Homo sapiens: one gene and its partners. The protein of the gene in region 3 purifies or fractionates together with the protein of the main gene of each other region. This does not show direct contact. Each region holds a gene or a part of one and is shown on either strand. Other genes may lie near its edges.

Evidence for each region.
Region 1: the proteins of SETDB1 (region 3) and SUV39H1 purify together in Homo sapiens (affinity purification with mass spectrometry; 4 studies listed by BioGRID and IntAct, with this or other methods). This does not show direct contact.
Region 2: the proteins of SETDB1 (region 3) and FAF2 purify together in Homo sapiens (affinity purification with mass spectrometry; 5 studies listed by BioGRID and IntAct, with this or other methods). This does not show direct contact.

Annotation. Positions count from the first base shown.
Region 1 is NC_000023.11:48,692,831-48,699,733, reverse strand, and holds the start of SUV39H1 (histone-lysine N-methyltransferase SUV39H1), read right to left. Parts: upstream 3,001-6,903; 5' UTR 2,950-3,000; coding exon 2,931-2,949; intron 833-2,930; coding exon 687-832; intron 1-686. UniProt on the Homo sapiens protein: Histone methyltransferase that specifically trimethylates 'Lys-9' of histone H3 using monomethylated H3 'Lys-9' as substrate. Also weakly methylates histone H1 (in vitro).
Region 2 is NC_000005.10:176,443,996-176,451,384, reverse strand, and holds the start of FAF2 (FAS-associated factor 2), read right to left. Parts: upstream 3,001-7,389; 5' UTR 2,978-3,000; coding exon 2,915-2,977; intron 1-2,914. UniProt on the Homo sapiens protein: Plays an important role in endoplasmic reticulum-associated degradation (ERAD) that mediates ubiquitin-dependent degradation of misfolded endoplasmic reticulum proteins.
Region 3 is NC_000001.11:150,921,936-150,929,681, reverse strand, and holds the start of SETDB1 (histone-lysine N-methyltransferase SETDB1), read right to left. Parts: upstream 3,320-7,746; 5' UTR 3,165-3,319; exon of another isoform or gene 3,138-3,164; intron 1,979-3,137; 5' UTR 1,968-1,978; coding exon 1,708-1,967; intron 1-1,707. UniProt on the Homo sapiens protein: Histone methyltransferase that specifically trimethylates 'Lys-9' of histone H3. H3 'Lys-9' trimethylation represents a specific tag for epigenetic transcriptional repression by recruiting HP1 (CBX1, CBX3 and/or CBX5) proteins to methylated histones.

The DNA.
Region 1 (6,903 bases), on a different chromosome or scaffold from region 3:
TGCACATCCCGTTGGCCCCACCTTCAAAATACGTCCAGTGACAAACCATCATCACTGCCACCACCCTGGCTCACCTGGACCCTGACAAGTCCTTGCCTGTTCTAGGCAGCTTACATGTATTATTAACTAACTTAATCCTCACAACCCCACATGAGGTAGATGCTCCTAGTTATCCCTCTTTTACGACAAGGAAAATGAAGTACTGAAGGTTTGGGTAGGTAGCCTGGGGTAACACAACCAGGACTGGAACCCAAGCATGCTGACTCCAGTTTGTTCTCCTAACCATCCTGCCACTCCCCCTTCTGGCAATAACTATCCCCATTTCAGTTGTTAGGGGATTAAATGAGTTTCCGAGAGGAAACGCCTGGCACACTGAAAGTGCTCAATAGCCATTAGCTATTGACATTTCCACTCCAGGGTTCAGCATCTCAATCTCTGCAATTACTTTGTATTCCTAGGGAGATGGGAAGAGATTTATTTGGGAATTCATTCCGGCTCCTGCCCAGAAAGCTACTTAGTTTCCCTATCTGTAACATAGGGATAAAAGGGTCTATTCATCCTGTGTTTTCAGGGTCAAAGGAGAAAATTCCCTTTGGAAACAGATGTGGGCAGTTGGGGACAAGAGGGCAGGACACTAACTTCCTTGTGACCTGTCCCCTCCCAGAGCATGGTCACCCCAGACTCACGCGGATCTTCTTGTAATCGCACAGGTACTCGACTTCAAAGTCATAGAGGTTCCTCTTAGAGATACCGAGGGCAGGGCAGGAGAGCTTGGCCAGGCGGCACAGGTCCTGCAGCTGATTCCAAGAAGACTTGCAACACACGCTGCAGCCTGGATCAAGCGGGGCAGAAAGAACTATTACTGGGCAGCCTGACTAGGCCAGGAGTCAAAGGGGACCCCAAATCCTCCCTGGGACATCCCAAAGACTGACTAAGAGTCAGGGAAATTTAATCCACAGGCCTTCCCCAGTGCTGAGACTGTTCTACAACAGAAATGTGCTTTGAACCCCAATACTCACTGCCCAAAGCTGCCCCTGGAGCAGCAGACCTCTAAGCGGGGTTTGCAACATGAATTGTCCTAAAGGAATCTATTTCCAGAGCTTCAAACTCCATGTCATTCCTAAAACTGCCTGCAAACCTGCTTTGGGTTCAGGACCTGATCACCCCTCTCTCCACTTTGCAAAAGAAAGAGAACAACCCCCCATCTCAGTAGGATGCAGTGCCCCGAGGTGGGGCGGATGGGAGGACAAGATTAAAACCTCCAGGGCACCAAACAAAGGCGTAACTGGAAAGACTGGTCTTTAATCCCTTATCTCAAACTCCTGGGCCAGATGTGTTTTGGAATTCAAAATTTTTTGGATTTTACAAGACTAGTTCTAGGATATCCCATACATCACCTAACACCCCCAGCGTGGCCAGGGGACATCAAGCTATAATCAAATGCATTAACCGTCCTGCAGCAAAAGTATGAATTTCCCACATTAAATAGGAGAAATAGAGATATAAAATAGCCTCACAGAAGAGTTCCACTTTATAATCTACTTTTGCCATAAATGGTGCCAAATTTAAGAAAAGGATTTCAGTTTTCAGGGCTTTTTAGATTTCGGAATTATGAGCAAGAGATTGTGGAATGATACTACATTACAGGAAGGCTCCTTAAATGATCAATCTGGGTGCCTTAAATCCACAAGGTATATTTTTTCACACTGCATTTTGACTTTCTGTCTCATCCATCTTTCTGTGAAGAGTAAAGCTCATCCAAAGGGTTATGCTCTGAATTTATACGCAAAGCGGTACAGATTAGTGACACTGATTCTTTTAAATATACCTGGTATATTTCTGGGACTGCCAAAATTTTGTAAGACACACGGATTTTAAAAAACAGATTTCTTTCTGATTCAAGGCACATTCTTAATCAAAGTACTTTAGAAGCCATTTTATCAAATCATGTCTCAAAACATTCCAAGGGCAGTCAGTCCTCATCCTATATCATCTTTTTAAAATGTTTAATATTTTCTGCCTCCCATTGCAAAAATCACACCTAAACTTTAGATGTCAACCTAAAAACGTACAAGAGCTTTTCAAAATTATTTCGTGTGCAAGCCCTACCCCCCCTACTTAGGCAAGACCAAGTGGAGACTGAGCCCGCCTGTGCCCACGCTTTCCTCTCCCTACAGCCTGTCCTCGCAAACCCCTTCCTTCACTTGCATTTGAAACCCCACTTAAGTGGTCCCAATTAACACCCTCCAGCTGCTGGCTCCGGAACTGGCCACAGGTGGACTCTCCTGAACCCCTCAGAGGTCCTCCCACTTGTGGAACCCATCCTCCCTGCGGCTTTCGTCACATAGAGGGGCCCCCCAACATAACTGAGTCACCCCTCTTTCCCTGCACATGGGGGAGTCCAGCTGTCCTATTAGGAAGGCCCCATTTCTCTCTTCTGGGAGATCCTCTATTCCAAACCCTTCCCCCATCACGCCGAGAGGCGATACTTTCCCCCAGAAGAGTTCTCAGTCCCCGCACTCTGAAGGGGGGGTCTGTCCCCCTTATCTTCCCTCCCCTTCCGGCGTCTCGCGTGGACACCGAATGGGTAACGGTCACCAGGGGCCGATTTTCCCGCGCGCGGGCGCGGCCTCCTCGACAAGCCCCCGCGCGTGCGCGCGCCGGTCCGGCCGCGATCTGCAGCGCGCGCCCCCCTCCTGCGTCCCCACTTAGCCCCAGGCCCGCTGCGTTCCGAGGCGCGCGCCCCCTCCCCTGAGCCCCGCCCAGCCCCGCGCACCAGGCCCGCGCTCCCCGAGCCTCATCCTTTCCGCGCCGAGCTTCCGGCTCCCGGCGCCGGGGCCTCGGACGCCGGGGCCCCGAGCCGGCAACGCCACCCCTCCAGCCCACCCGGCCCGGCCAGCGGGCCCGCGCCTCTGCCTCCACTGCTTCACCTTTTAAATTTTCCGCCATCTTTCCCCACGGCTAACGACATTCGGGCCTAGCCGGCCTCGCGAGAAGAGCGCTCGCGCGGGCGTGGCCGGGAACGCGCAGCCTATTGGCCGCGGCTCCCGACTCGCAGCACCCGCGCGGACCAACCGGAGAGCCGTGACCGAACCCCTCCCTGCCGCCCGGCTCGGTCCCGGAGGCGGGTGCTCGCCGCGCTTTCCCAGAGTGCGTCTGGGCGGCGGCGGCAGCGGGAGCGACAGCGGCGGTAGCTAAAGTTGCCAGAGGCCCTGCCCGTGCGCTGGTCTGTCTGTCACACTGCTAGCCAATCACGTTATCAGCCAGTCGCAGTGGTTCCTCAGTCCTGTCATACTCCCTGTTATCACCGTCAGTCAGCCCGTCATCTCATTTTAACCCCAAGCAGGCCGGGGCTCCCAGGTGGACTAGTGCCGTATCCAACTGCTCAGGCGGTCGCCCCAGACAGGTGCCTAGTCAGACTCCCGGCCCCCATCCACACTGCTGGGCAGTCAATACTGGCTTCCATTTGTGCCCTGGCCAGCGGCGACTCCCTGGAGGCAGGCAGACAGCACTGTTAGCCAGCCTGCCTTATCATTCCCTAAGACCATCCTGTCCTCACGTTGTCAGCAGATCAATCAGTCCTCCTCTCCACCCACCATAGCCCTGGGACCAGCTGCGATTCTCCCTGGCTAAATCCTCTCATAGACTGCAGCATCCAGCCATGCCCCCAGGCGGGCTGTGATTAGGTCGGGACAAGCTGTCACTGTCAGCATCTAATACAGCCCTGTCGGGCACTATCAGTTGGTCACTGTCTTTCCCTCAGATTACTTCTCATTCACACCACGATCAGTCACAACATCCAGCTAGGCCCTCAAAGCAAATAGTCACAGCAACTAGAGGTAGGATTAAGCCTCCACACCACCTGTCAGTGGGTCAGCCAGTCTGTCATTTCTCAGGCGACTCATCCCCACCATTGGTCAAGTCAGTCTCCTCTGATGCGTTGAAGCTGAGATTCTATCAGGGCAGACAGTCCGTAACCACGTACAGCCATCGAGTCAGACAGCTATGCCGATTTTGCTCCTGGCCAGCTGGCCTGTGACTCGTTCAATCCGCCCCTCATCACATCGTCAGTCATTCTCAGCATCCGACTGACCGCACCGTCTGTCAGGTGATCAGTCAGTCAGAGCACCCAGCCAGGCCCTCCAGCATGCTGTGATTCGAGCAGCGTGGATAGTTGATCACCAGATACAGCTGCCTAGCAAGCAGCCACGGGTCTGTTGATCAGTTAGCCTGAAGTTTCCCCAGGTGGCCCTCCTTTACACGGTGCCAGACAGTATAACATCTAGACATTCCCCCGCCAGCTGTGATTCCTGACAATAGTCATTCACAACATCCGGCCACCCAGGCAGGCAGTAGCACCACGGGCCATCAGTCAGCCAGCCTGCAAGGTCCTCAGGAGGCTGCCTGTCTTTTCCACTGTCAGGCTACCAGCCCCAGCCAGTCCTAGGCAGGCTGTCATTCAGTTAGATGTTCAGGAAACTGCGCTGTCACGTCCTCAAGTTGCGCCTTCTCCCTGTCACTCCATGAGTTCTGTAGTCAACCAAACAGTTATACAGTTAACCAAACGGATATTCTGTCTGCCTGCCAGTCCAGCTGTGAGCTCATTAAGAAGTGACTGGCTGGTCTGAGGTTCCGTCAGCCCCAGCTTGCCCTGAGGGGACAGACAGGAGCGAAGGTCCCACCATGCATCCCCTTCCCTCCCTTACTCCTTCTCGAGCAGAGTCAGGTGCTCATCCTCATGTACCCCCAGTCTCCTCGGGCAGCAGGGCTCTCCCACTCCCGGGTGTCCAGGAGACCTGTCCAACCCACAAGAGTGATTTAAGACAGGACCTCTGCCTGTCTGGATCTGAGAGGGAGACAAAAGGGTCTGTCGCCAGTAGTGCCCCCAAACACTATAAAGTAGTGGGCAAAAGTCTGGATTCTGGAGCCTGACTACCTGGACTCATATCCAGGCTCTGCCATTTACTAAATTACTTGATCTTAGGCAGTTTCTTAAACTGGTCTGTAAAACCTGCAGTAAGTGACCTTGGGGTGGGTGTCTCCTGCTCATCTGGAAAGTGAATCATTCTGGACTAGCACTTTTTCAGGAGACCTCAAAAGTTAAGAGGCCATCTTATTGCTACCGTGTCCCACTCCCAGCCAGTTGTCTGTTCATTCAGCATTAATTTAATGATTACTGCGTTGCCCAGTGCCGGAGCCAATATAAGGTTTTATTCACAGGTTTGACCTATTGTAATGTAAACCTCAGATTGGAGTGTAACACAAATACAGAAGGGTACACAGACCAGGGGTGAACACTGTAATGAGTTTTCACAAGCAGACCTACATGTGGAACCAGAATGCAGGCTGAGCAACCATTAAGCCAGATCTCAGAAGCATTTAATTGTTTCATATAAATTTATTGGGTACAAATATAATATTTTTTTTTTGAGACAGAGTCTCACTCTGTCACCCAGGCTGGAGTGCAGTGGCGTGATTTCGGTTCACTGCAACCTCTGCCTCCCGGGTTCAAGCGATTTTCCTGCCTCTGCCTCCTGAGTAGGTGGGATTACAGGCGTGTGCCACCACACCTGGCTAATTTTTGTATTTTTAGTAGAGATGATGGGGTTTCACCACGTTGGCCAGGCAGGTCTCAAACTCCTGGCCTCCAGTGATCCACCTGCCTTGGTCTCCCAAAGTGCTCGGATTACAGACATGAGCCACCATGCCAGGCCACAAGTGTAATTTTGTTACACAGATACATTGTGTAGTGGTGAAGTCAGGCATTTTACTGTATCCATCATCTGAATAATGTACATTGGCCTCCCAAAGTGCTAGGATTACAGGCATGAGCCACAGCGCCAGGCCACAAGTGTAATTTTTTTACATGGATACGTTGTGTAGTGGTGAAGTCAGGCATTTTACTGTATCCATCAACTGAATAATGTGCATTGGCCTCCCAAAGTGCTGGGATTGCAGGCATGAGCCACAGTGCCAGGCCACAAGTGTAATTTTGTTACACGGATACATTGTGTAGTGGTGAAGTCAGGCATTTTACTGTATCCATAGCCTGAATAATGCACATTGTACTCGTTAAGTAATTTCCTCATCATCTACTTCCTTCCCACCTCCCCACCCTTCCAAGTTTCTGTTGTTTATAATTCCACATGCTATGTCCATGTGTACACATTATTTAGCTCCCACTTACAAGTGAAAAGATTCAGTATTTGTCTTTCTGTTTCTGAGTTGTTTCACTCAAATTAATGGCCTTCAGTTTCATTCATGTTGCTGCAAAAGACATGATTTCATTGTTTTTTATGGCCGAATAGTATTCCATTGTGTATACCACATTTTTTTTTTGAGACGGAGTCTCGCTCTGTTGCCCAGGCTGGAGTGTAGTAGCGTGATCTCAGCTCACCACAACTCTGCCTCTCGGGTTCAAGCAATTCCCCTGTCTCAGCCTCCTGAGTAGCTGGGACTACAGGCATGTGCCACCACGCCCGGCTAATTTTTTGTATTTTTAGTAGAGATGAGGTTTCACCATGTTAGCCAGGATGGTCTCTATTTCTTGACTTCATGATCCGCCCATCTCGGCCTCCCGAAGTGCTGGGATTACAGGCGTGAGCCACCGCGCCCGGCCAACCAGAACACTGGATTTCTAAGATTTCTGTGGGGGACTGGGAGTAGGGATAAATGATGCTGATGGATCCTTCCTAGACTCAGTGCCCATCTGGGGACCTGGTCAGGGTGGGGTGGGGAGTGGTGTTGCGGTGTAAAGAATAATGAATTAAAGGAAACCTGAGACTCCCTCCTTCTCTAGCTTGGGGGAGTTCCCCTTTCCACCTAGAAATTCTTCCGTTGCTCTTGCAGACTGAAGAAGCCTGCCCTCTCTGGAGTCTCCCTCACCTTTATCTTCCTCCCCAC
Region 2 (7,389 bases), on a different chromosome or scaffold from region 3:
AAAATTTTTTTTTTGAGACAGAGTCCCGCTCTGTTGCCCAGGCTGGAGTGCAGTGGCACGATCTTGGCTCACTGCAACCTCCACCTCCCGGGTTCAAGTGAGCCTCCTGCCTCAGCCCCCCTAGTAGCTGGGATTACAGGCACATGCCACCATGCCTGGCTAATTTTTGTATTTTTAGTAGAGACGAGGTTTTGCCATGTTGGCCAGGCTGGTCTCGAACTCCTGATCTCAGGTGATCCACCTGCCTCGGCCTCCCAAAGTGCTGGGATTACAAGCATGAGCCACCACACATGGTCTAAAATATTTTTCTTAAAAAAAGAGTTAATGTACATCAACTGCTGCTTGGTATAATGCTTGGCATCTAATAAGTTTCAACAACTGTTTGTTTAATGGCAGTCTGGATAATGAATCTGATCCAGCGATTGCTTATAGAATAGAAAAATGAAAGATGCATTTCCCTCAATAAATCCAATTTCATAAGGCAATCTTAATACAGCTCGAACCTGCTACCCACCTCTCTTCTAATAAAGATCTCCACAGTTTTGGCCGGGCGCGGCGGCTCACGCCTGTAATCCCAGCCGAGGAGGGCGGATCACGAGGTCAAGAAATCGAGACCATCCTGGCCAACATCGTGAAACCCCGTCTCTACTAAAAATACAAAAAATTCGCTGGATGTGGTGGCGCGTGCCTGTAGTCCCAGCTACTCGAGAGGCTGAGGCAGGAGAATCGCTTGAAACTGGAAGGCGGAGGTTGCAGTGAGCCGAGATCGCGCCACTGCACTCCAGCCTGGGCAACAAGAGCGAAACTCCGTCTCAAAAAAAAAAAAAAGATCTCCACAGAAGATAAAATGGAGGTTCCTATGCACTTTACTTCAGAAATGCTATCATAGATTTATATTCATGCTCTTCCAGTATGAGACTAAATATACCATAATTTATAACTCACATTACTTCATTGCACTTAAACCACATGTTAGCTTACCCCTGAAGAGTTCTAAGGGGTAAAATGGTCTGCCAAAGTTAAACAACACTCTGAAATTGGTGGTCTACCTGGAAGTGTAAGCTGGTTGTCTGTTTAACTCATTCTCTAATAATAATTTGCTGGGTCATCAATTCAATTTCTCTACCAAAAATTCCAATCAAATGTCAATTACATCTATGACAGCATTTTTCCATTTATACACTTCCAACACACTGCTCAATTTAAGAGGGGAAAAAATAACCACTTCAAAATTTATTATAGTGAAGTCTATTCAAGGAAATTGCAAAAAAGTGAGAACTCGCCAAAAAAATATTTATTTTCTCAGCATTTGCATTCCACACTCAACTGTACACTGAAATATAAGTTGCACAAGACAGAAGTCAGAAGCCTGGGAAGGGTTCTGGAAGATGGACATAGCTTTAAATCTGACACCATCATTTTCTAGCTGTGTAACCTAAGCATTTTATTTCTTAGTCCTGATACCCTTCATCTGTAAATCAGGGACTAGAACAGTATGAACCTCATAGGGTTGCTGTATTAAATGAGGTTATGTATGCTAAGTGTTTACAAAGTACTTACATCTGAAATAGTAAGTGGGATTCTACCTAGCAGCGCTGCGCACTAAGGTTCTTCATATAGTTGAATAAATGAATATTTACACATTTTATATAAGGAAATAAGTGTATCAATAACTTTAGGTCTATCCTAAGTCAAATTAATAGCAGAAAATACTATTTGGGGGCATTTTGCAGTCTACAAGGCCCTTCTAACATCCATATGTCCATTTGATCTCCCGAACATCCTCAGGAGGTAGATTTTTTTTTTTTTGAGACGGAGTTTCACTCTTGTTGCCCAGGCTGGAGTGCAGTGGCACGATCTCGGCTCACTGCAACCTCCGCCTCCCGGGTTCAAGCGAGTCTCCTGCCTTAGCCTCCCGAGTAGCTGGGACCACAGGCGTGCACCACCACGCCCGGCTAATATTTGTATTTTTAGTAGAGACGGGGTTTCACCATATTGGCCAGAGTGGTCTCGAACTCCTGACCTCGTGATTCGCTGGCCTTGGCCTCCCAAAGTGCTGGGATTACAGGCGTGAGCCACCGCTCCTGGCCTGGGGGTAGACATTTTTAAGACAGTCCTTTCAGAGATAAGGAAACTGGTAACAAAGTGCCAAGGTTACCCACCCTAGTGGTATCCTCCAACCATTCTCCAGCTCAGGGGTAAGTGATCAGTGGCAAATGTTCTTAATACAACATCTTGTATTAACATAACATTTCTGCAAGTTACCACCCTCCTCAAGCATAGTTAAGCACAGGAATCCAGGAATAAGCCAAAAGTAATAAATCCCGACAGACCACTGATGACACTTATCATCTTGCATTGTTTCCTCACTTGGTGTCCTCCCACACCTCTAGGGCGGGGACCAGATCTGTGTGTAGGTGCCCCCTCCCCGACCGGAACCCCCAACACGAAACCTGGTATCCAAGAGGCCCCAGTTTGTGGGAGTGTATGTGGAAATGGCATGGGATGCTGGCAGGAGGTTTTCCTGTCAGAGACCCGAAATGACGCCAACTCCGCGGTGGGGACTAAGCTTCTCCGGCAGATATAGACTCGTTGGGCGGAGAGGGTCCGACCGATAACCGGGCTGGGAAGGATGGCTGAGGACTGACGCCGCTAAGGCAAACCAGGGAAGCTGACACGCTGAGGGCACAGAGGCACAGACGAGGCGGGTCTGCCCGCAGCGATGGCTGGAAGGCTAGGGTCCAACAGAGGCTTGGGGGCCGGGGGAATCAGGGCAGTTGGAGTCTGGGGGGGAGGGGGCCGGCCTGCTGGTCTGAGAAGGATCTGAACCCAATCTGAGGAGGGTTCTGAACTCCTCTAGGGGCCTACTCCCCATCCCACGGAGGCATCTGCTGCACCGAGTACTCGCTGCTACCTGAAACTGCAGCAGCTTCTCTGTCTGCTCCTGGGTTAGATCCCGCTCCTCAGGCGCCGCCATTTTGCCGCCGCCTCTACGCTCCTGACCCGTCCGCACCGTCACCCGCCGGAACTGACCTCAGCCACAACCACATCCGGTCTGAACGGCCGCCGGCGCGCAACTGCGTCTGCGCGCGCTGGCCCACTAACCTCCCCCCGCCCCCCGCCACCTCTGGCCGCCGCCAGAGGGCGCCACGCTCGGGCCTATCCCGAACACTTCCGGAAATTGCCGAGGGACTGTCGGTACAAGTCGCTCTTACCATTTAGGCGACGAAAGGATCTGCTAAGATTAGGCGACGAAAGGAGACCTAAGATTCCAGTGCAGTCTTGCAGAGCCGAGAGGGCCCGAATGTGCCTCGAGAAGCTCCGGAGCATCCCGAATGGCATTCGGCTGATTTCGGCTGCTCTCTAACCATTTTCCGGCAACCTCAGATACTCTTGGAGGTTTCTCGGGAGACGCAGCCGTTCCGAAATACCAGCCTTTTGGTCGCTGGCCCCTGACCTAAAGTTTCCAAAAGCTCCTGACCATCTCTCGGGAGGTTCCGAAGGGCTCTGGATACTGGCGCGGCATTTCCGACGCCGCCTTCGAAGCGGAAGCTGTGGGCAGACTTCGGCCACCGTTCCATTGCCGCTTCGGGGTCACTTGCAGGAAGATCTGGACTCGGCTCCCCGGATCCTCGACCATTCATGGCGCCCCCAGTCGTCCGCACAGCTTGCCGTCCACCGCCGTGACTGCGGCGCTGGAACCCCGGCCCGGCATCTGCTTTTCCGTGCCTGGAGCCTTGTCTCTCCGCACTAGCGCTGCACTGGCCCCTTGTCTCTGTGACAGGCGAAGAAAGATCCCTGGACCGGGATTAGGAGACGCGGGTTCTAGTTGCCACCTTGCCAACTGCTGGACATCCTTGGGCAAACCACTTGGGCTCCATTTTGCCATTTGTTGAATGAGATTCCCCAAAAGCCCCTGACGTGCTGCCGCCGCCCCTTCTCCTCGAGGCAGTCCCCTGCCCTTCCCTTCTGCTGCTTACACTACCCTATCACCACCCCTCAATCTCTATCTTCCTCTGCACGTCCCTTGCCCCTTCTAGTCCGCCACCTCTCTTTAGATTTCCCGTTTTCATTTCCACCTCTCCCGCCGAACGCCTCCTCTGCCCACCTTCCAGAGAGGCCTGGGTCTGGTACACGCTTTTCCACTGACCACCTGTGTGATTCTCAGCAAGGCTCTCGGCCGCCTGCGCCCCACCCTCGTCCCCTTGCAGGGTTGATCCGGTGAGACAGAAAAGGCTTTGAGAGCTGGTTCTGTGAAGAGTACATGAAATTTTGGCTACTTCTTTCAGGACTTATCAGGTCTTACCAGGTCTGCACAAACCACGACGTCCTGGAAAAACAGCACATGGTACGCCCTAAAACACAACCCCCAAAAAGTGCTAATTGGAAAAACAAAACAAAACAAAACAAAAACCCTGCAAATTTGGATCTGCATATGAAATCTTTCCGTTTAAAAATGGTGTCGGCCGGGCTCTGTGGCTCACGCCTGTAATCCCAGCGCTTTGGGTGGCCGAGGCGGGCGGATCACTTGAGGTCAGGAGTTCGAAACTGGCCTGGCCAACATGGCGAAACCCTGTCTCTACTAAAAATACAAAAATTAGCCAGGGTTGGTGGCGCACGCCTGTAGTCCTAGCTACTCGGGAGGCTGAGGCAGGAGAATCGCTTGAATCTGGGAGGCGGAGGTTGCAGTGAACTGAGATTGCCCCACTGTACTCCAGCCTGGGCGACGGAGTGAGACTCCGTCTCAAAAATAAATAAATAAATAAATAATATGTCAATTAAGTAAAAACCCCCGAAGGTAAAATCGGAAGCAGATAGCTGCTACTCTATAGAGAATTTATTACAGCAGCTCAAAGCTCAAAGGAAACTCAGTGTTGTTCAATCTCACCAATAACGTTGGGTTCAGATAAACTAAATGAGGGTTGGCAAAGTCAGATGTCCTCAGGAATTGTGTAATTCTCACTTAAGATATATACTTGCCAGCAGGCATGGTGGCAAATGCCTGTAGTCCCAGCTACTCGGGAGGCTGAGGTGAGAGGACCACTTGAGGCCATGAGTTCAAGGCTGTTGTATGCTGTGATCACACCACTGCATTCCAGCCTGGGTAACATATTCTTTCAACAGACCTAATTTGTAGTTATATGAAACACCATTGAATATTTCTTCACTTCCTCAAAGAAAGTTACACTTTCTTTTTCTATCTTTCTGTTTTCTTCTTTCTTTCTTTCTTTTCTTTGAGACGGAGTCTTGCTCTATCGCCCAGGCTGTAGTGCAGTGGCCTGATCTTGGCTCACTGCAAGCTCTGCCTCCTGGGTTCATGCCATTCTCCTGCCTCAGCCTCCTGAGTAGCTGAGGCTTACAGGTGCCTGCCACCATGCCCGGCTAATTTTTTTTTTGTATTTTTAGTAGAGATGGGGTATCACCGTCTTAGCCAGGATGGTCTACGATCTCCTGACCTCGGGATCCGCCCGCCTCGGCCTCCCAAAGTGCTGGGATTACAGACGTGAGCCATCGCACCTGGCCCTGTTTTCTTCTTTCAATAAAGATTAGGTTACAAGAAATAATTCATTTGTTTAAAACTCTACTTTAATGTGTCTCCGTGTGGGGACAAAATATGAAAAGCCGGAGTGTCCATTCCCTGTCCAAAGGTGGTTTTTGGCCAGACGCGGTGGTTCATGCCTGTAATCCCAGCATTCTGGGAGGCCAAGGTGGGAGGATTGTTTGAGCCTAGGAGTTGGGGACCAGCCTAGGCAATATAGTGAGACTGCCTCTACCAATTTTTTTTTTTTTTTTTAATTAGCCAAGTGTGGGCCGGGCACGGTGGCTCACACCTGTAATCCTAGCACTTTGGGAGGCTGAGGCGGGCAGATCTTGAGGTCAGGAGATCAAGACCATTCTGGCTAACACAGTGAAACCCTGTCCCTACTAAAAATAAAAAAAAATTAGCCAGGCATGGTGGCAGATGCCTGTAGTCCCAGGCCGAGGCAGGAGAATCGCTTGAACCTGGGAAGCAGAGGTTGCGGTGAGCCGAGATCGTGCCACTGCACTCCAGCCTGGGCAACAGAGCGAGACTCTGTCTCAAAAAAAAAAAAAAAGTTAGCTGAGTGTGTTAGTACGCATCTGCAGTTCTACCTAGTTAGGATGCTGAGGCAGGGATGATCACTTAAACCCGGGAGGCAGAGGTTGCAGTGAGCCATAGTCATGACTGCACTCCAGCCTGGGTAACAGAGCAAGACCCTGTCTCAAAAAAACAAACAAAAACAAAACAAAACAAAAAACAGACGGTTTCTGCCTTTTAGCTGTGGAGGATGGCTTCCATGTATTGCCGGAACTGCCCATTTTTTTTTCAGAGCACAGACATTCTCACCCCCCCAAAAAAATGTGAGGTGATGCATATGTTCATCAGCTTGATTTAGCCATTCCACAAAGTACACATATTTCAAAACATCATGTCCTACATGATACATTTTATTTGAAAAACATCACATTGTACACCTTAAAAAGTAAAATATGCTAATTTGAAAAGAAAAACTCTACACATTTGGATTTCCATGTGAAATCCCCCCATTTAAAAATGGTGTTGGCCAGGCGCGGTGGCTCATGCCTGTCATCTCAGCCCTTTGGAAGGCCGAGGTGGGTGGATCATCTGAGGTCAGGAGTTCAAGACCAGCCTGGACAACATGGTAAAACCCCGTCTCTATGAAAAATAGAAAAATTAGCCAGGGATGGTGGCCCGCACCTGTAATCCCAGCTACTTGGGAGGCTGAGGCAGGAGAATCACTTGAACCTGGGAGGCGGCGGTTGCAGTGAGTCGAGATCACGCCATTGCACTCCAGCTTGGAAGATAAGAGTGAAACTCCGTCACAAAAAGAAAAAAAGAAAAAGGTGTGAACTAATTCAATTCAAAAAAAGGTGTCAATTTCAAGAAAATTACTCTGCAAGTCAACCAGAATTGGAAGAAGCCTCATAGCCTCTGTTTGCCATGGAAGAAGCAGACCTGGGAAGAAACTCAAACTTTTTTTTGATAAGTTCAAGATGAAGAGTGTGAAAAGTGTTACCAGTTATTGGCTTGCCTTTTCTTTTTTTTATTTATATTTATATTTTATTTTATTTTATTTTATTTTTTGAGACGGAGTCTTGCTCTTGTAGCCCAGGCTGGAGTGCTGTGGTGCAATCTTGGCTCACTGCAAGCTCCGCTTCCTGGGTTCACACCATTCTCCTGCCTCAGCCTCCCAAGTAACTGGGACTACAGGCGCCCGCCACCACACCCGGCTAATTTTTTTGTATTTTTAGTAGAGACGGGGTTTCACCATATTAGCCAGGATGGTCTCCATCTCCTGACCTCGTTATCTGCCTGCCTCAGCCTCCCAAAGTGCTTGGGATTACGGG
Region 3 (7,746 bases):
GGCTGGCAGTGGTGGCTCACACCTGCAATCCCAGCAATTTGGGAGGCTGAGGCAGGTAGATCACTTGAGGTCAGGAATTTGACCTCCCCAGCCTGGCCGACATGGTAAAACTCCATCTCTACTAAAAATACAAAAATTAGCCGGGTGTGGTGGCACACGCTTGTCGTCCCAGCTACTCCGGAGGCTGAGACAGGAGAGCTGCTTGAACTCGGGAGGCGGAGGCTGCAGTGAGCCGAGATCACGTCACTGTACTCCAGCCTGGGTGAGACAGAGCAAGTCTCTGTCTAAAAAAAAAATAAAATAAAATAAAAATAAAATAAAAAAATGCTCATTATCAGTGGCCATCAGAGAAATGCAAATCAAAACCACCATGAGATACCGTCTCACACCAGTTAGAATGGCGATCATTAAAAAGTCAGGAAACAACAGGTGCTGGAGAGGATGTAGAGAAACAGGAACACTTTTACACTGTTGGTGGGACTGTAAACTTGTTCAACCATTGTGGAAGACAGTGTGGCGATTCCTCAAGGATCTAGAACTAGAAATACCATTTGACCCAGCAATCCCATTACTGGGTATATACCCAAAGGATTATAAATCATGCTGCTATAAAGACACATGCACACGTATGTTTATTGCGGCACTATCCACAATAGCAAAGACTTTAAACCAACCCAAATGTCCATCAATGATAGACTGGATTAAGAAATGTGGCACATATACACCATGGAATACTATGCAGCCATAAAAAAGGATGAGTTCATGTCCTTTGTAGGCACATGGATGAAGCTGGAAACCATCATTCTGAGCAAACTATAGCAAGGACAGAAAACCAAACACCGCACGTTCTCATTCATAGGTGGGAATTGAACAATGAGAACACCTGGACACAGGATGGGGAACGTCACATACTGGGGCCTGTCGTGGGGTGGGGGGAAGGGGGAGGGATAGTATTAGGAGATATACCTAATGTAAGTGACACCAACATGGCACATGTATACATATGTAATAAACCTGCACGTTGTGCACATATACCCTAGAACTTAAAGTATAATAAATTTAAAAACAATGTATTCTAAGTGACAACTAGAGCACCAGAAACAAATCTTTTGGGGGTATGGGAACTTACTAATGCTTCAGAGTTACGTAAGACAGAAATTCTTTACAATCCTCACTCCCTGGATGATCTTACTAGGGAAATGAAGCAATTGTTCTAAGATAGAGCACAGGAGGAAGAAGGGGAAAGGACTTAAGACTTGGACTCCCTTACTGCTGATCATGTATTAGCTGCTGACAGATGAAAATTATATTTACGGCTGATTGTAAGGTCAGATTTTTGACCATAAACTTTGAGGAAGAGTAAGGTTCTAAACATCTGTACTTCATAAAGTATAAAATGTTTGGTACACAGCCTGGCCAACATGGTGAAACCCTGTCTCTACTAAAAATATAAAAAATTAGCTGGGTGTGGTGGCGGATGCCTATAATTCCAGCTACTCGGGAGGGGGAGGTGGGAGAATCACTTGAACCCGAGAGGTGGAGGTTGCAGTGAGCCAGGATCACTCCACTGCACTCTAGCTTGGGTGACAGAGCGAGACTCCGTCTCAAAACATAAAATAAAATGCTTGGTTCAATGTCATGAACAATTATTCTCTAAAAACATCTCCCAATGGAGAGATTTCCTTCTATTTTCCATGGAGTTCTCACCTGGATGCATCATCAAAGAGTTGGTCAACGTGAGCCACCTCAGATTCTTTCTGTATTACCCATGTCTCTAACTCTGCTAGCTGCTTCTTGCGTTGCTGTACACAATCCATCTTCTCCAGTTCCTCATCGATGAAATGCCGAAGTTCCTCCATAGAGATACCCAGTTCCTCAACCACTGCCTGTTGCAGCTCTGCAATCTCTTCAGACTCCACTGTAGCTGTTGCTGCATCCAAACCAATGCACCCAGGAAGGGAAGACATGCTTTTGTCCTCTGCATGGAACAGAAAACAAATTAAATTGGAGTCCTTATAACTACAATCAATCAATAGAGAATTTCAGTTCCCTAATAAAACTAATTCCTACTCTGCTGCCTGTTATTCTATTCAAATATTCCATGTTCTCCCTCCCTATTCTCCAGAATCTGATGCTGAGATTTTTAAGAGTTCTTATCTTCTGCTGTACGCTAACACTCCTGAAAAAGATTTAAGAGTTTGAGACGGCATGGAGAACATTCATTAAGCAGTAGAGAGCTACTGAAAATAATGTTTTGGGCTGGCACAGTGGCTTACACCTGTAATCTCAGCACTTTTAGAGGCCGAGGCAGGAGGGTCGCTTGAGGGCAGGAGTTCAAGACCAGCCTGGGCAACATGGCAAGACTCGTCTTTACAAAAAAATACAAAAATTAGCCACGTGTGGTGGTGCACGCCTTTAGTTCCAGCTACTCAGGAGGCTGAAGTGGGAGGATCGCTTGAGCCCAGGAGTAGCTGCTGTAGTGAGCTATGTTCGCGCCATGCATTCCAGCTTGGGTGACAAAGTGAGACCCTGTCTCAAAACAAACCGAACTTTAAAAATAATCTTTTGGGATACTGAAGAGAACCAATCTATAAGATATTTTTGTGGTCTATATGTGTTCCTTAACTAATGTGATAAATCTTTGTATGCTATGCCTAATTTAAACAAAACCCCACCTGGGGATGGAGTTGATTTGGAACTCACTAACTCAGTGTTTTCTCTTTCATTACTTGTTCCCCTTATATTACTTTGCTTCCATGTGGAATTTTACTTTTTAAAAAGTCTATGATATTCAAACACACGAAAGCTTGCAGCAAAAAGGTTTCCCCCAAAGTACAGAGAAGTAAAGCAACCTGGGAATAAAACGTGGGTACCTAATATCCACAATCCAAATACTTCACACATTCGTGTGAACTGCTTTTTTAATCAAACGGTTAAAGAAAATCTGATTTTCAGCGCCTCCATTTTCCTCTGCCCACACACCAGCCCACCCCCGTGCTACCCATTCTAGGGGTGCGTCCTACCCATTCGCAAACCCAGTTCAGCCCCGCCCCCGTTCGCCTCTGGGGAAGACTTCCTTCCCACCCTCGCCCGACCCCCTCCCACAAACAAAACGTCCCAGATAAGCCTTTGGTCACCAAATAACTCAACAGTATTCCCCGCACCTCCCGTCTTCCAGCTTCAAGGGCTCTTTTTCACCAACCAGACCCCAGACTCACAACTCAGGGGTCGGCCTCGACGGAAAAGAGCGAAAGCGAAGGGATAAGGGAGGAGGGGGAGGGGAGGAAGCGTGAAAGAGGGAAGGGGAAGCAAAAGAAACGCCCGGAAGCAAACCTTTAGTGCCGTTCCGGTCACCGCGACGGTAGCCTGACGGGGTCAAATCCAAAGCCGCGGGGCGCCCCTCAGAGGCGACGAAAACTAAGGTAACTACGCATGCGTTAAGGCAGAGCCTTCCAGGGGCACACGTGAGAAGAGACTGGCAGGGCAGAGTAGGCGTGGCCAGTATATTACCGAGTCTCCGCCGCTCCTACCACCCTCGACTAGTGGCCCCATTACTATATTCATTGTGTAAAGACTTAGGGAAACGCTCATAGGTTCAGAGCTTTATTCTCTCAGTTTTACTTGAGTTTGTTTTGTTACATAAGTGATACAAATTGTAAAGGCTATCAAGATGTAATAAGAAAAACGTGATAATATTCTCTCTTGCCCCATCACCACTCCGCTCCTTTCAGGTAATACAGCTTCATTTTCCAGTCTTGTATGTACGAGTTTCTGTATTTGGATTTTTGTTGTTTTCATTTAACATGTGGACATTACCTGAAGCCAATAAAAAAGGTAAAACTTGTATTTTTGGCCGGGCGCGGTAGCTCACGCCTGTAATCCCAGCACTTTGGGAGTCAGAGGCGGGCGGATCACGAGGTCAGGAGATGGAGATCATCCTGGCTAACACGGTGAAACCCCGTCTGTACTAAAAATGTTAGCCGGGCGTGGTGGCGGGCGCCTGTAGTCCCAGCTACTCGGGAGGCTGAGGCAGGAGAATGGCGTGAACCCGGGAGGCGGTGCTTGCGGTGAGCGGAGATCGCGCCACTGCACTCCAGCCTGGGCGACAGAGCGAGACTCCGTCTCAAAAAAACCAAAAAAAACAAAAAAACAAAAAACCAATAACTTGTATTTTTGACACCTGAATAGTTTAGATTGTTTAGATTGTTTTCCGTTCTCAGCCCCGACAAATAGCGCAACAATAAAAATAAACATCCTTTTGAAGTAGTACTTTTATTTCTGTAGAAAAGATTCCCCAGGCCGGGCGCTTTGTGTCCGAGGCGGGAGGATTGCTAGAGCCCAGGAGTTCCAGACCAGCCTGGGCAACACGGCGAAACGCCATCTCGACTAAAAATACAAGGTAAAAAAAAAAAAAAAAAAGCCAGGCGTGGTAGTTCGCGTCTGTGGTCCCAGCAACTCCGCAGCTGAGGCGGGGGGAGGATCGCTTGAGCCCCGGTGGCAGAGGCTTCAGTGAGAGGAGATCGCGCCACTGCACTCCAGCCTAAGTGACCGAGCGAGACTCCGTCTCAAAAACAAAACAAAACAAAAAACAAAAAGAAAAGATTTCCCAAAATGGAATTTGAGTAAAATAATATGTGCTTTTTTCCTTTTTTTTTTTTTTTTTTTTTTTTTTGAGAAGGCGTTTCGTTCTATCGCCCAGGCTGGAGTGCAATGGCGCGATCTTGGCTCACTGCAACCTCCACCTCCCGGGTTCAAGCGATTCTCCTGGCTCGTCCTTCCGAGTAGCTGGGACTACAGGCGCGTGCCACCACGCCCGCCTAATTTTTTGTATTTTTAGTAGAGACGGGGTTTCACCGTGTTAGCCAGGCTGGCCTCGTCACACCTCGGCCTCCCAAAGTGCTGGGATTACATACAGGTGTGAGCCACTGCGCCGAGCCTTCCTTTTTTTGTTTGTTTGTTTGTTTTTGAGACTGAGTTTCGCTCTTGTCACCCAAGCTGGAGTGCAATGGTGCGATCTCGGCTCACTGCAACCTCCACCTCCCGGGTTCAAGCAGTTCTCCTGCCTCAGCCTCCCGAGTAGCTGGGATTACAAGCCCCTGCCACCACACCCGGCTAGTTTTTGTATTTTTGGTGGAGACGAGGTTTCGCCATGTTGGCCAGGCTGGTCTCAAACTCCTGACCTCAAGTGATCCACCCGCCTCGCCTCCCAAAGTGCTAGGATTACTTACAGGCGTGAGCCACTGCTCCCGGCCCTTTCTTTCTTTTTCTTTTCTTTTCTTTTTTTTTTTCTGAGACAGAGTCTCGCTCTGTCGCCCAGGCTGGACTGCAGTGGCACGATTTCGGCTCACTGCAACCTCCACCTCCTGGGTTCAAGCGATTCTCCTGCCTCAGCCTCCTGAGTAGTTGGGACTACAGGTGCGTGCCGCCACGCCTGGCTAATTTTTTGTATTTTTAGTAGAGACGGGGTTTCACTGTGTTAGCCAGGATGGTCTCAATTTCCTGACCTTGTGATCTGCTCACCTTGGCCTCCCAAAGTGTTGGGATTACAGGCATGAGCCACCTCGCCAGGCCTTTTTTTTCCTTTTTTTTTTTGAGACGGAGTCTCGCTCTGTAGCCCAGGCTGGACTGCAGTGGCGCGATATCGACTCACGCAAGCTCCGCCTCCCGGGTTCCGCCTCCTGGGCCTCCCAAAGTGCTGGGATTGGGATTACAGGCGTGAGCCACCGCAACCGGCCTTTTTTTTTTTTTTTTTTTTTTTTTTTTTTTTTTTTGAGACGGAGTTTCATTCTCGTTGCCCAGGCTGGAGTGCAATGGCTGGATCTCGGCTCACCACAGCCTACCTACGCCTCTGGGTTCTCCTGCAACAGCCTCCCGAGTAGCTGGGACTATAGGTGCCCACCACCACGCCCAGCTAATTTTTATATTTTTAGTAGAGACGGGGTTTCATCATGTTAGCGAGGCTGGTCTCGAACTCCTGACCTCAGGTGATCCACCCACCACCTCAGGTGATCCACCCACCACCTCAAGTGATCAACCTGCCCTGGACTCCCAAAGTGCTGGTTTTATAGCGGTGAGCCACTGCACCCGGCCATTCTCCTGCCTCAGCCTCCCGAGTAGCTGGGACTACAGGCGCCCGCCACCACGCCCGGCTAATTTTTTGTATTTTTAGTAGAGATGGGGTTTCACCGTGTTAGCCAAGATGGTCTCGATCTCCTGACCTCGTGATCTGCCCCCCTCGGCCTCCCAAAGTGCTGGGATTACAGGCGTGAGCCACCGCGCCTGGCCTTTTTTTTTTTTTTTGAGACAGAGTTTCATTCTTGTTGCCCAAGCTGGAGTGCAATGGCAGGATCTCGGCTCACCACAACCTACGCCTCTGGGGTTCAAGCGATTCTCCTGCCTCAGCCTCCCCAGAGGCTGGGATTACAGGCATGCACCACCACGCCCGGCTAATTTTGTATTTTTAGTAGAGATGGGGTTTCTCCATGTTGGACAGGCTGGTCTCAAACACTCGACCTCAGGTGATCCGCCCGCTTCGGCCTCCCAAAGTGCTGGGATTATAGGTGTGAGCCACTGCACCCGGCCCCTTTTTTTCCATTTTAATAGAATCTGCGGTCAAATTACCTTTCTAAAAGGTTGTAACAATTATTACTCTCACTAGCAAATCTGAAAGTGTTTCCCCACACCCCTATTAGTACTGGGTGTTAACTACTTAATTTTTAAGAACTTGATATGTATTAAAATAGTATCAGTATCAGGATAGACTAGGTTATGTTGTGGAAACAACTCCAAAATCTGAGTGGCTTAAAAGAAAAAAAAAAGGCGTGTTTCTTGCTCACACTACATAATCATCTCTGGAAGGTATGGTGGGGCTCTGCTAATGATAGCTACTGGGGAAACCCACACTGATGAGTAGTAATACCAGAGGGAAAGAATGCTAGAGGGACTCATATTAACAAAATGACTCAAGACACTGATTTTTACAACTCATTGACCTGAATGAATCACAAAGTCCTACACAACCACCAGGGGGCCAGGAAGAGCAGTTATCTTACCTCTGGGAGGAGGGAGAACCTGGTGTGTCTGATGAACCAGCTTTATTGACTACCACAGCGTCTTATCATTGCTTTAATTTGTTCATGTGTCTTTACACTAACTGTACTAGTTATTGAATCTACATTTCATTTAAAAAGTACAAACCAGAACCTTGTGTGTGAGGCTGGAAACACAGCCCAAGCGCCAGAACTGCCAAGTCCTTGAAATTCTCTCTTGTTGACCACATTTTCACCTGTGCTCATTTCACCTGCTCAACAGTTTCCTGGGACCACCCTAAGTGCCTATTTTCAATTAAGACAGCAGAAATTGAGGTGTGGAGAAGTGAAGGGTTCCTCCAGATAATTGAAATTCATCATGTTCTAAACTCATTTCATTATGGTATCACCTAACCTGAGCTAAAAATTTTAGACATACTACTCCCTAAACACACACACACACACAATATTTGTTGAATACTTGCTACATACCAGGAACTGTTCTAAGCACTTGCCAGTTATTAATTCATTTAAACTTCACAATTATCCTATGGGGTAAGAACTAATATTATTGTCCCTTTTTTATAGATGAGAAAACAGAGGCACAGAAATAAATTTCCCAAAGCTACACAGCTAAAAAGTGACAGACCCAGGCAGTTTGGCCATACACTTGGTGGTCTTGAACCATCATTCAGTGTAGCTTGTTTCCTCTTCTTTC